2 linked regions of the Homo sapiens genome follow. The protein of the gene in region 2 purifies or fractionates together with the protein of the main gene of each other region. This does not show direct contact. Each region holds a gene or a part of one and is shown on either strand. Other genes may lie near its edges.

Region 1 (8,868 bases), on a different chromosome or scaffold from region 2:
GCCGTGAAGGAGGGAGGGACTTCGGGCAGAAGAGGGTGGGACTGGGGTTAGGCAGGACTGCTGAGTGGAGGGAGGCAGTGGGGACGGGAGGGGTGAAGGGTAGGCTGGGCCCGCATCAAGACGCTTGCCCAGGGAAAGGCCACACCGCTCACCAGCGTCTTTGCCAGCTCCCGGGCCTGCTCCTGGTTGGGGAAGACGGCGGCCCCTCCGAACTTAACGTCCACCACCAGAGCGGACAGCCCCTCCACGAGTTTCTTACTGAGAATGGAGGCTTTGGGGGAGGCAGAGGAGGTTGGAGACAATGGAGAACCTGGAGCTTCTTGGGAGAGTTCGGGGATGCCGACTTTGGGGTCAGGGGCCCTGAGCATTGAGGGTCAAGTCCCTTATTATGGGGGTGGCAGCACCTGGTGGGTTGAGTATCAGGCCACCCCACATGGTGGTGGTCAGGCATCTTGTGATGGGGGTAGGGGGGCACACGGTCAGGTGACGGGTAACTCCTAACGAGAGGCCCTTGACTTGAGTTTGGAGGTCAGGAGCCTGTGAACATGCAGAAGCAGGCCATGGAGTCAGGTCACCTGTGATGAGTGGCAGGCTGTCCACGGTGGCTGTCACATCTCTGGCTGCATATAGGATTCCGTCCGCAGGAACCAGCTGCTCACTCTGACCCACGATACAGCAGCCCGCCTGGTCCAGCAGCACTTGCATCTGGTCAGACATCCCCTGTTCTCAGTGACTTATGGTAAATGACTTAGCAGCTTTTTTTTTTTTTTTTTTTTTTTCTGTGAAGAGTCTTCCTCTGTTGCCCAGGCTGGAGTGCAGTTGGCACAATTTCGGCTCATTGTGACCTCTGCCTCCTGGGCTTAAGTGATCCTCCCACCTCAGCTTCCCAGTAGCTGGGACTACAGGTGCGCACCACCACACGCGGCTTTTTTTTTTCTTCTTTTTTTTGTAGAGATCAAGTTTCACTATATTACCCAGGCTGATCTCCAACTGGGCTCCTCTGCCTCCCAGAGTGCTGGGACAGGGTCTCACTCTGTTGCCCAGGCTGGAGTGCAGTGGCATCGTCCCGGCTCACTGCAGCCTAGACCTCCCAGGCTCAAGTGATCCTCCTGCCTCAGCCTCCTGAGTAGCTGGAACCACATGCGTGCACCACCACACGCAGCGAACTATTTTGTAGAGATGGGGTTTTGCCGTGTTATCCAGGCTGGTTTTGAACTCCTGGGTTCAAGGGATCTGCCCTCTTCGGCCTCCCCAAGTGCTAGGACTACAGGTGTGAGCCACCGTGCCCCGCCAGCCATCTGTGATTTTGACCAACTTCCCATTTTATGATCCTAATCAAAGTTCCACTGATGATTTCGGCCCAGGCCCAGTGACTCATGAGTAACCTTGACCAGTGTTCTCATTAGTGACCCTAATGATCCACCAGTGATCTTTTAGTGATTCTGGCCAGGGTCTCCATCATCAACCTGGATTAATGACTGATCCGTGGCGCCCCGTACCTGCTCTGGGCTCTGGATGACATTGAATCCAGGAATAGACTCCAGCTTATCCAAGGTGCCTCCTGTGTGCCCCAGACCACGTCCGCTGATCATTGGCACCTGGTGGTCAGGGATGCTGAGTACCCTGCACAGTACCCCTCCCCCACCTCTGTGCATCCCTTCACCTTCCCTGGCTAGGAGTGCAGCTGGATTTGGAAAGTATTTAAGCAGCTATAGGGGTGCCCAGCTGGTGAGGGAATGGAAAGGAAGTTTTCTTGGTTGAGAAGTGTCAGTAGGGGAGGAGGTTGGTACCTGTCCTTGGGGAAACAAGGCTTGGGGCAGAGGGAGGAAAGTCCTCAGCTCCTCCCTTGGGGGAGCTGTCTGGGGACCCAAGGGGAAAGGGGTCTGAATTCCATCAGTGGATCTTTTTCCTGCTCCAAGGGGCCTGGTCTGGAGCCAGAGGGGCCCCAAGCGCTGTGCTGGGGAACGGGGTGGGGAGAACTGTGCTGGGGAGCAGGGTGGGGAGAAGCCTTGGTAGGGTCTTGGAGGCTTTGGGCCAGGCTTGAGGTTGGGAGCTGCCTGTGGATGGACTGGTTGCTGCATGTGCGGTATAGGCTCCCGTCTGGAAAGGAGGTGGTTTCTAACCTTGCAGCCACATGCCGCCAGGGCAGGTGCGAGGACCAGGCTGACCTTGTCACCCACACCCCCTGTGGAATGCTTGTCCACAAGCTGCTGGCGCCAGGCCTCTGGCCACTCCAGCTGCTGTCCCGACTGAGCCAGGGCCTGGGTCAGCACCGAGGTCTCCTCCAGATCCATGCCCCGAAGTCGGATGGCCATCAGCATGGCCCCTGGTATGTGGGGGTACGCGTGAGGGTGGCAGCCCACAGCGGTGGGGCACCCTGGGGCCGGTGCTGGTAGTGGGGCACCGTCGCACCCCCAGGGACCCAAAGTCTCTCGGGCTGACCTCCCAGTCGGGGTCAGGAACGCCCAACCCTCCCCACGCACCGATCTGTGCGCCCTGCGCGCTCCCATTCACCACAGCGGCCACGAAGCCCCTGATGTCCGCTTCGCTCAGGCGGCCTCCGTCTCGCTTCATGCGGATCAGCTCCGGGAGCTGCTTGGGCTCTGGCGAAGGGTCGGGAAGTCCCTGGCTCCCTTCCCCGGAGAAGTCACCAGGCGCGGGTGGGGCCCCGGTTCCCGGGGTCATCAAGGCTGCCATCGCTCCGGGCCTGCGGGGATGCCTGACACGTCCGGGGTCTGCGGCCTCCCGGCGTCGGTGTCTGAGCCACGTGCTCCTGTCCCGACCCCTTTCCCGTGTCTCTCCGGTGTCCGCCCCTCGGTCCCGTGTCTGTGTCGCCCTCGTCCGTGTCTGCCTCCCGCTTCCCCGCCTCGCGACTTGAGCCCCGCCCGTACCTGCTTAGGGCGCTGCCCTCGCCCGCTTGCTCCGGATCCCAGCCCAGGTACCCGGCCTCGCCCGCGGGTCGGGACCGTAGGGTTCAGGGTTCGCGCACAGCGGTCCACTGCCGGCGGCGGGGCGGCGGCGCCCCAGGACGGCAGGCGGGTGGGGCCGCCTGGAGGGCGGAGCTCGGCAGTCGCCGCCCCCGGGAAGCCTTGCACGCCGCGCCCCGGCCAATCCCCCGGTGCCCCCGGACACGCGGAACTTCCGGGCCGTCGGGGCCCGGGGCCGTCGGCGGGGGTGATCCCTGGCCGGTCCCGCCCGGCGTGGGTCTCGGGCGTCTGTGGCTCCCGAGAGTCCCCCTCCCGCCCTCGGTGGGGTCTCGACGTTCGGACGCGGCGCAGCGCTGGGGTCCCGGCCTCGCCCGACGCTCGGGCCCCGCCCCGCTGGGTTCGGAGTTGGGACACGGCCCCAGCCGTGGCTCCACCCCAGGCCTTGCGCCAGGACGCGCAGAGAGAGAGAGAGAGAGGCGGACACGATGCGGACTCGCAGACTTTAAGCAAACACGTGTGGGGCCGCTCCCGCCTGGCGGGTCAGTTGTCCGCGTCGGTCACCAGCGGGGCCAGGTAGTCCGAGTGCCGGATCCCGAAACTCCAGCCGCGGGGCTTCCGGTGCTGCGGGCCCGGAGACACCGCTGACCTCGCGGGGCCGGCATCCTCTCCGCGCCGGGACCCCTGGACCCCCGGGGACTCTGATCCCATCACTCCGACCTCAGGCCCTCCCCACTCTCCTGACTCTGACCCTTGACCCTGGGCTCCAGGCCACCTGATCCACGTTGTAGGCCGCGGGCCCTGGCTTCCGAGTGTTGTCTTGGGGGAGCGAAGTCCGCGCCAGAATCGTGAACTGGGGGGCCCGGGACTTGTAGACCCCTGGACTCACGACCTGATAGGCGCAGGGGCCCGGGGTCTGCGAGAGGGCAGAGGGTGCTGGCTGCCGCCTCCACTGCCGCGGACCAGGGACCCCCTGCGTCCGCCCCGGCCCCTCCCCCACCTTGCTGAGGTCCTCGAAGAAACTGCCAGCCGCTCTGCGGCCGTAGATGGAGCAAGTTGGGGCGGAGACTTTGCCGATGACGCGCGGACCCAAGAGCGAGGGCACCGTATAGGCCGCGGGACCTGGGGAGGAGGCAGGGCTCGGGGGTAGTGGGTCTCCGCGGACAGGCGCAGGGTGGTCCCAGCTCCCGGAGGGCGGTCCCCGGTCTCGAGTGGGAAGGCCCACAGTTCTGGGATGGGCCGTTCTGACCTCACCTGGGCTCTGCTGTTCCGCCTGGACACCCCAGTTTCGGGGAGCAATGGTGTGCCGAGGCGCACTGGGGTACGTCGCGTTCCCCGCTCGCTCCGGGAAGTACCTGCCTGCGGGGCGGATCAAGGGTGTGGGGGGCTAGAACTGCGTGGGAGCCTGGTGGGTACCCGAGATGGGGTCCTGGGACTAGTGGGGAGTCTGAGCCACGATTTATCAAAGCCCCGTGGGGTTCGGGGTTTGGGATTTGAGATCCGGATATGGGGGTACCGAATATGCGGTGTTAGGGTATCCGAGGGGGACTCGGGGTTCAGGTCGGGGGTTCCCAGGTGGGCCTCCCTGGAGGCAGTTCGGCGTTGGGGTGGCCAGGGGCCCGGGGGTCCTGACCAGGTCCCGGAGTGAGGAAGGGCGCTGAGCGGCGTGGGCGGCCGTAGATGGAGTAGGCGGGGGCGCCGTCGGTGCCGCGCACGGTCATGCGAGCGGGCACCAGGTGGCCTGGCCCGGGGCCGCACGTCGTCTGCTGCGTGGGGAAGCGCGCGCCGAAGGTGAAGGCGGGGGCGCGCGGCCGCGACGGGTCATGCAGGGCGTAGCCTGGGAGCATCCGAGTTAGCGTCTGGCCGGGCCCAGCCCCAAGCCCCATCTGCAACACGGACCCTCCCCCGGCACAGACCCCCTCTCCCCTCTAGCAGGCACGGTTCAGCCCCGAGCGCAGGCCTCCCTGGTCTCTTCCCCTTCCCTCCCCCAGGCGCCGTCCCACCCCTCAATCCCGGGGCCTGCCCCTTCTACCGGTGTTGGGCGGCAGCTTGTATTTGGGCCCGGGGCCTCCGTAGTGCGCCGCGATGGGGCCGCGGGGCCGGTGTGGCCGCCAAAGGCCCACCCAGGCGTCCGAGCCCATAGCGCGGGTGGGGGGCGCTTACGGCTCGCAGCACCTGCGGACAGAAGGCGGTGGCCGCGGCCCCTGCACCGCAAATTCTTGGGGAGCGCACTTTCCCACTACCCTGGGATCAGCGCGGGGCGGGGCGGGGCCTGGACCGTATCCCTGGCGCCAGCAAAACAAACGCGAGCTTCCTTCCCGGCTGTGTGGAGCTTGGGGCCGGGAGCGGATCCAGGGCCATCACCCGGACTCCAGGCGCATTAGGCAGGGACGTGAACTCGCGGGGGCCAAGTCTAGACCCAGACTTGGTGAAGGGAATCACCTGGGGGTGGGGTGGGGGCAGGAGATTTTCGTGCTGTTGGGAAAGGGTGCCCCGGGAAGGGCCTGCGTGGGGGACCCGGTGCCCCGAGGTGCACTGACCTGTTGTGGTAGCTCCTAGCGTGGGAAAACAAAGCGACGTGGCTGGACATCCCCGCTCCGCCCCGCCCACCTCCCAGACCCCATTGTGGCCCTTTCCCGCTTCCTGGCAACCGCACTGACTGCCTGCCCCCCCAACCTGGGTCCGCCTCCCCCTTCCCCACCACCCAGTGCCGCCGCTGGGCCTCTGTGTGGATTCTGTGGCACGGGTGGGATAGTAGCCTGGGCCACCCAGAACGCTGGCCTCACCCTTACCCAAGTTTCAGTATACCCATTCTGGAATAGGACAAATCTGCAGACAAAAGCAAGGATGGGAATAAAGGAACTGAATAATGCAAAGCACACACTCCATTTAATTATGTGTAGAGAGAGGACTTATCTATTTAAGTCCATGAAATATTCGCAAAAAAAATCATGTATTGGGCCACAAAATAATCACACAAATTGAAAAAAAGATGTGACACATGATTTGATTACAATCAAATACAATTCTAGGCAAACAAAATGTAAAAAAAAGAAGAAGAAAACTCAGCCTGGGCAATACAGTGAGACCCATCTCGACAAAAAACTTTAAAAATTAGCTGGGTGTGATGATGTACATCTGTATTCCCAGCTATGGGGTCGGTGGCTGAGTCGGCAGGATCTGTTGAGTCTGGGAGTTGGATCCTGCAGTGAGCAGTGATCCCACCACTAGACTCCGGCCTGGGTGACAGAGTGAGACCTTGTCTTAAAAAAAGAAAAAAAAAGGGAGAGAGAGAACAGGAAGCAGGAGCAAACAAATATTTTGAAATTGACAAATCTTTAAAAAAAAACCCTGGATCAAAACTTGTCAGAAATAATCTGGTTACAAACTGTAGCAGGAAGAGCCGCAGACAAAACTCCTCAGACACCAGGTTAAAGAAGGAAGGGATTTATTCGGCCGGGGGCATCGGCAAGACTCCTGTCTCAAGAGCCGAGCTCCCTGAGTGAGCAATTCCTGTCCCTTTTAAGGGCTCACAACTCTAAGGGGGTCTGCGTGAGAGGTCATGATCGATTGAGCAAGCAGGGGGTACGTGACTGGGGTCTGCGTGCACCGGGTAATCAGAACGGAACAGAACAGGACAGGGATTTTCACAGTGCTTTTCCATGCAATGTCTGGAATCTACAGATAACATAACCGGTTAGGTCAGGGGTCCCTCTTTAACTACCAGGCCCAGGGCGCGGCACTGGGCTGTCTGCCTGTGGATTTTATTTCTGTCTTTTAGGTTTTACTTTTTCTTTCTTTGGAGGCAGAAATTGGGCATAAGACATATATATGAGGGGTGGTCTCCTTCCTTAAAACTACATATCAAACACTACAAAGGTAGATTCCCTTCCTACTGAACTCCTACAGGAGGCAGCTAAAGCTGTGTTCTTGTGGGCGGAGGATTACCCAGGTGCCGAGGCAAGAGACTGAAGGCACAAACTGTTTCAGTATAATAAAGAAAATAGTTACAGTAAGAATAGTTATCATACAAATTAGATATAGAGATGACCATGGACATTATCAATCATTAGTGTAGACATTAGTCATTAACTTTTAATATTACTCTTTGTTGCATCATTAATATAACCTAGGAATCACCGGCGGGTATAGGGTCAGGTGCTGAAGGGACATTGTGAGAAGTGACCTAGAAGGCAAGAGGTGAGCCGTCTGTCACGCCCATATAAGGGCCGTTTGAGGGCTCCTTGGTCAAGCGGTAACGCCAGTGTCTGGGAAGGCACCCGTTACTTAGCAGACTGCGAAAGGCAGTCTCCTTTCTTTGAAGGAGTCAGGGAACACTCTGCTCCACCAGCTTCTTGTGGGAGGCTGGATATTTTCCAGGCCTGCCCGCAGTCATCCGGAGGCCTAACCCCCTCCCTGTGGTGCTTCACTGGTCACGCTCCTTGTCCACTTTCATGCTCCTCCCATACTCCTGGTTCCTCTTTGAAGTTCACAGTAGATAGCGGTAGAAGAAATAGTTAAAGTCTTAAAGTATTTGATCTTTCTTAGAAATGCATAGAAGAAAACGCTGACGTTTGCTGCCTTCCCTCTCTGCTTCAGCTACCTAAAAGGGAAGGGGCCCCTGTCCTGTGATCACGTGACATGCTTCACCTTGTCAATCACTCAGAAGATTCACCCTCCTTACCCTGTCCCCTTGTCTTGTATGCAATAAATATCAGCCGTTTGGGGCCACTACCGGTCTCCTCCTCTTGATGGTAGTGGTCCCCCGGGCCCAGCTGTTTTCTCTTTATCTCTTTGTCTTGTGTCTTTATTTATTATAATCTCTCATCTCCGCACACGGGGAGAACACCCACTAAGCCCCGTACGGCTGGACCCTACATGTTCTGAGGAAAATTTATAGTCATTTTAAGATGACTTCATTATGGCTGGGTGCGGTGGCTCACGCCTGTAATCCCAGCACTTTGGGAGGCCGAGGCGGGTGGATCACGAGGTCAGGAGATCGAGACTATCCTGGCTAACATGGTGGAACCCCGTCTCTACTAAAAATACAAAAAAAAATTAGCCAGTCATAGTGGCGGGCGCCTGTAGTCTCAGCTACTCGGGAGGCTGAGGCAGGAGAATGGCGTGAACCCAGGAGGCGGAGCTTGCAGTGAGCGGAGATTGCACCACTGCACTCCAGCCTGGGCGACAGAGCAAGACTCCATCTCAAAAAAAAAAAAAAAAAGACTTCATTATTATTATTTTAGACAGAGTCTCACTCTGTCAACCAGGCTGGGGTGCAGTGGAGCATCTCAGCTCGCTGCAACCTCTGCCTCCCAGGCTCAAACAATCTTCCCTTGTCAGCCTCCCAAGTAGCTGGGACCACAGACATGCACCACCACACTCGGCTACTTGTTTTGTATTTTTGGGAGAGGTGGGGTTTCACCATGTTGCCCAGGCCGGCCTTGAACACCTGGGCTCGAAAGATCCACCGGCCTTGGCTTCCCAAAGTGCTGGGATTACAGAAGTAAGCCACCCAGCCTCGTGACTACATTATTAATGAAGAAACGATTCAAAAAGCTTAGTATATATCTTACAAATGGAAAAAAAATAAGTAACATAAAGGAATGAAACAGGAACTAACACAAAGTAGTAGATAAAATATAATAACTATATATGTATATTTTTGAGACAGAGTCTCGCTCTGTCGCCAGGCTGGAGTGCAGTGGCACAATCTCGGCTCACTGCAACCTCCACCTCCCGGATTCAAGCAATTCTTCTGCCTTATCCTCCCGAATAGCTGGGATTACAGGCGCCCGCCACCATGCCCAGCTAATTTTTGTATTTTTAGTAGAGATGGGGTTTCACCATGTTGGCCAGGATGGTCTCGATCTCTTGACCTTGTGATCTGCCCGCCTCGGCCTCCCAAAGTGCTGGGATTATAGGCGTGAGCCACCGCGTCCAG
Region 2 (4,631 bases):
TTGGGCCTTACAACAATTGCTACTATATATATATATATATACATACACACACACACACCCATATATATATATATATATATATATATATAGTTTTTTTTGAGACAGAGTCTTGCTCTGTCGCCCAGGCTGGAGTGCAGTGGCATGATCTCTGCTCACTGCAACCTCCACCTCCTGGGTTCAAGCAATTCTCCTACCCGATTCTCCTGCCCCAGCCTCCTGAGTAGCTGGGACTACAGGCACGTGCTACCATGCCTGGCTAATTTTTTGTATTTTTAGTGGAGAAGGGGTTTCACTGTTAGCCAGGATGGTCTCAGTCTCCCATGATCCGCCTGCCTTGGCCTCCCAAAGTGCTGGGATTACAGGTGTGAGCCACCGCGCCTGGCCACTACTACAGATTTACTTACTATGTATCTGGCTCTGTGGCAAGTAGTTGGTGTGCTTTTTAAATTTAATTATTTAAATAACCATGCGAGACAAGTATTATTGTCACAATATTATAGATGAGGAATGCATTAAAAAAGTGAATTACAGACCAGGTGCGGTGGCTCACACCTGTAATCCCAGCACTTTGGGAGGCTGAGGCGGGCAGATCATGAGGTCAGGAGATCTAGACCATCCTGGCTAACACGATGAAACCCCGTCTCTACTAAAAATACAAAAAATTAGCCAGGCGAGGTGGCGGGTGCCTGCAGTCCCAGCTACGCGGGAGGCTAAGGCAGGAGAATGGCGTGAACCTGGGAGGCGGAGCTTGCAGTGAGCCGAGGTCGTGCCACTGCACTCCAGACTGGGTGACAGAGCAAGACTCTGTCTCAAAAAAAAAAAAAAAAAAAAAGGTGAATTACGAAGAGCAATTGGCTTCACTAACATTGCTGAAAAGTGGGGAGTCCAGCTCAAACCTGAGTTTAGCTGACCCGAGCACCACTGGGCTGGTCCCACTTCTGACTAGTCCTCTCTACTACTGGCCCACGCCTTCCAAGCCATCTTTCAGCTAACCAGTTTTCAGTGATACGAAGTCCTTTAGGGCTCCCCTGGTGGGACAGGGGATGACCTATATCATTTGCTAAGTATAAGGTAGATATTCAGTTAGTGAAACTTACTTTAAAGGCACAAAACCAGGACATCCAAGAGAGTATTATGCTCACTGAAAATGTTACGTATCAATCATGGCTATTGATTCAAGTTCAAAAGAGAAATCATTGACCTTTACTACAGAATTAGAAACAGCCAATGCAACAGAAGTTTTTAAAAATTATATTTAATACAAGTGAATAGATTAGAAGATCTGAAATGTTATAAAGCAATATACACAACGAATAAATAATTTGCACAGGAGAGTCATGTCTACATTACATAACACTGTCTAGTATGGGAATACTTAAAGTAAATCCAGTGATAATGGAGAAAGTCCATAAAAATGCTAACCTGTCTTCCCTTGTATGAAATTGTTCAAGTATAAAAATCCAATACAGTGTAAAATAGTATTCAATTTAGTTTAAGAATAAAAATTGCAAGTATTGCAGTTTCAGAAGAAAAATGTAAAGCAGCATTTAAAAACTACATAATAGTGTTAAACTAATGAATTACCAATAAATGAAATCTACACAGGCAAAATCAGAGGAGGAAGCATGAAACTAGCAATATATCGTTTAAAAAAAAATCTAAAAACTAAACTAAAATGTGTTAATGTAAGAGTACTCTCTTATACAGTGCACATATGAATTTAAATAAATCCAAGTCAACATCTTTAGTTGAATAGGTTAATATTTAATACGCTACATCTAGACTTACTAAATAATTTATGCCATGAGATGAATACATAATTTTACAGTGTCACATCTAAAGTTCCTTTCTTTAGAGTGCAGCATAGTAAAACTTAAAAATAAATATCTTAAATAGCATTACTATTAAGGCACAGTATAAACCACATTATCATTAACCTTTGAAGAATTGTAATCTCAGTAACCTTGTTGTCTCATGTACTGTAGTCACTAATAAATAGTTTTAAATATGACTCTGAAATAGATACTAAAGTGTAAAATTACTTAAAAAGGGAAAAAAAATAAATGTCCTTAAGACAGTTCTGCAAACTTTGCCTGCCTTTATTCATAAGCCACGAGTCGACACAATAAATAGAAAGAGAAGGCTGTTGTAGTAAAAGCCTGATCCTATTTCAGAATCAGAATTGCTGACACCAGCAGATACAAGTTTCCCAAAATTGAAACAGGATGGGGAGAGGGATTAGAATGTGACAAGCTCATCAAACAAGCACAAGTGATGTGTTCTTTCCAGAACTGTGTGTGTTATTGATTGTCTGTACAGCTGTTGCACCCATTAATTCCACATCACTTGTTCCACAGTTCCACTCATCCACAGGACAGATGAGAAAATAGCTTTGGTGCCTGTCCACCATTTTACCCACTGCCACGCTCCTAGATTGATTGTTCGATGCCCATTTTTGAGATAGTAAGAACAGGACCTTCCGACTTGAAAAAAGTTCTATAGGCCTTAAGTGACTGCTAAAAATGACAATCAGTGCTTTCGCCATTTTGTTTGTAAAAAATCTGCTTTTAAATGTAATTCAAGCTACATATTGCTCGCTCTGTATTCCCTGGTTCAACTAGATTCAAACAGCATTTTCTAACTTGTAAAAGGCAGTTTGCTTCCCTGATACTATAAAAAGAGCAAAAATAAAAATCCCGTTACAAAAGTGAAGTTCCGTTGTTACTCCTGGCGTCATTTCGTAGTGGCCTTTCATTTACTCAGGCTCTTTGGGATTGATTTCCAAAATTGTGCCCATTCCCCTCATTCTTACCTCTTTCTCATCTAGAACACTACCTGGAGTATAAAAAAAATAATAACTCTGCTTCACAATAGCATGGCTGTTTTTTTTTTTAAAGCTGTTAAGTCAATGTTAACTCTCTTATTAGCTACTAAAAATTGGAAAATTGGGAGGGAAAGAGAAAACAATTCAACTTTGATCAGATGGCTGGTCTATTGCATTCGGTCTGTCTGCAGCTGCTGAGGCTGGTACTGGCCAAATGCTGCAGCGGCAGCAGCTGCTGCAGCGGCGGCGGCAGCTGTCCCAGGTGCCGCTGCGGTGATTGGCTGCTGGACTGCGTAGCCATAGCCCCCAGCAGTAACATATCCTGCAGCAGCTGGAGAGGCTGCATAGGGGTACTGGTCATAGGCAGCAGCGGCGGCGGCAGCAGCAGCAGCTGCTGAGTATTGTGCGTATGCAGCTCCAGTGTAATCAATGTAAGGGGTGGTGGAGGCGGCAGCTGCTGTCGGCTGGACGTGTGGAATGACCACTCCCGGCTGCACAAAAGCCTGCGGATAGACATAGTGGGCAGGTATCCTGTTGAGAAATGGAAAACAAAGTCAGGCGGTAGTCACCTCCTAACTGTAGCATGTTGTTCAAAGATAAAACAAACTCAAATTTAGTGGTTATTATGAGCATAGGGTTGCCACAATATCTACTTTCTAGTGGTCCATTGAGAATACTCAGGCAGTAGCCAAAGTCATAGAGTGCCCCCAGAAGAACTGGACCCCAAAAATATGATGACACCCTCCCTGCTAGAATTGTCATGTATGATTATTTGGAGCTGCTAAGTACAGTTTATCAAGAGTTTGGAAAATAAATCAAGATTCATGAGGGCTACACACGTAAGAGAGGTTTAACAAGTGCTCAATTGATGAAGACTTTGGAAAATTTTGTAATGAGTTCATAAAATAAGAATGTTTAATTAAGTAAATAGAAAAATTCTTAGCCAAGAATATAGGACTCAAAAGGTAGTCCATAATTATTCACTTCTGTGGGGTGATCACCAGTTTGTCGAAATTAACATAAACGTTAACAAAATCCGTATGTTTATTATCATGGCAACCCTACTTGAAATTGCTATGCAGACTCAGCACACATTAATCTCTCTGCAACCTCAGTCACCCTTATTAAAAATAATAATTAAAAAAGGAAGCAGGCGACAAAATAAGAAAAAGGAGTTTAAAAGTTCACAAGTGTGGTAAACACAGCAGAATCACACTTCTCAAACGAACTGTAGTGCAGCTCACTCTGTCACAAGAGGCTGTCGTGGGAAGCTACAAAAATGCTATTAACATTCATGGCAGTGATTCCCAAAGAGATGTGCAGCACACTTATTTTCTTTCTTTCTCTTTTTTTTCCCCCATAAAATTCATAAGGACACAACGGTCAACCAAACCTGTTTGACTATCAGGCACCTGAGGGTCAGCCAGCTTGTTTATCTCTATGCAAGACAGACAGAAGGGGTTTTGGGGAAATGATGAGGTTGAGGGAAAAGGCAGGACAGGGAAGTACAACTAAATATTTCTAAAATTAATAGAAATTTAAAAGGTTTACATAACAAGGAAACTTTTTTTGCACATCTACTAACTCTTGTTTCATCCTCCAAATTAGCAGAAATACGTTAGTGTTATGTTCGAAATCTGCCCTATTCGTTGATATTTTGTACAAATCATATCAATTGTATAATCATGTGTTATCCTGCAAAAGTTCAAGAAAGTCAAACAAAACCAAGTATCTTTTAAAATTATACATTCACAGATAATACAAGACAGACTCCAATGACGTTACTTAAAAGTTAATGTGGTTAAAA

Evidence for each region. Proteins that work in one complex are often made in the same cells at the same time.
Region 1: the proteins of RBM24 (region 2) and TYMP purify together in Homo sapiens (affinity purification with mass spectrometry; 3 studies listed by BioGRID and IntAct, with this or other methods). This does not show direct contact.

Annotation. Positions count from the first base shown.
Region 1 is NC_000022.11:50,527,013-50,535,880, forward strand, and holds the start of TYMP (thymidine phosphorylase isoform 1 precursor), read right to left. Parts: upstream 3,001-8,868; 5' UTR 2,892-3,000; exon of another isoform or gene 2,708-2,891; 5' UTR 2,698-2,707; coding exon 2,484-2,697; intron 2,327-2,483; coding exon 2,124-2,326; intron 1,599-2,123; coding exon 1,500-1,598; intron 706-1,499; coding exon 576-705; intron 272-575; coding exon 153-271; intron 1-152. Other genes in the region: CIMAP1B (ciliary microtubule associated protein 1B), read right to left, coding at 3,646-4,046, 4,179-4,283, 4,558-4,761, 4,957-5,065. UniProt on the Homo sapiens protein: May have a role in maintaining the integrity of the blood vessels. Has growth promoting activity on endothelial cells, angiogenic activity in vivo and chemotactic activity on endothelial cells in vitro. Catalyzes the reversible phosphorolysis of thymidine.
Region 2 is NC_000006.12:17,290,480-17,295,110, reverse strand, and holds the end of RBM24 (RNA-binding protein 24), read right to left. Parts: intron 4,263-4,631; coding exon of another isoform or gene 4,218-4,262; intron 3,356-4,217; coding exon 2,992-3,355; coding exon of another isoform or gene 2,979-2,991; 3' UTR 1,240-2,978; downstream 1-1,239. UniProt on the Homo sapiens protein: Multifunctional RNA-binding protein involved in the regulation of pre-mRNA splicing, mRNA stability and mRNA translation important for cell fate decision and differentiation. Plays a major role in pre-mRNA alternative splicing regulation.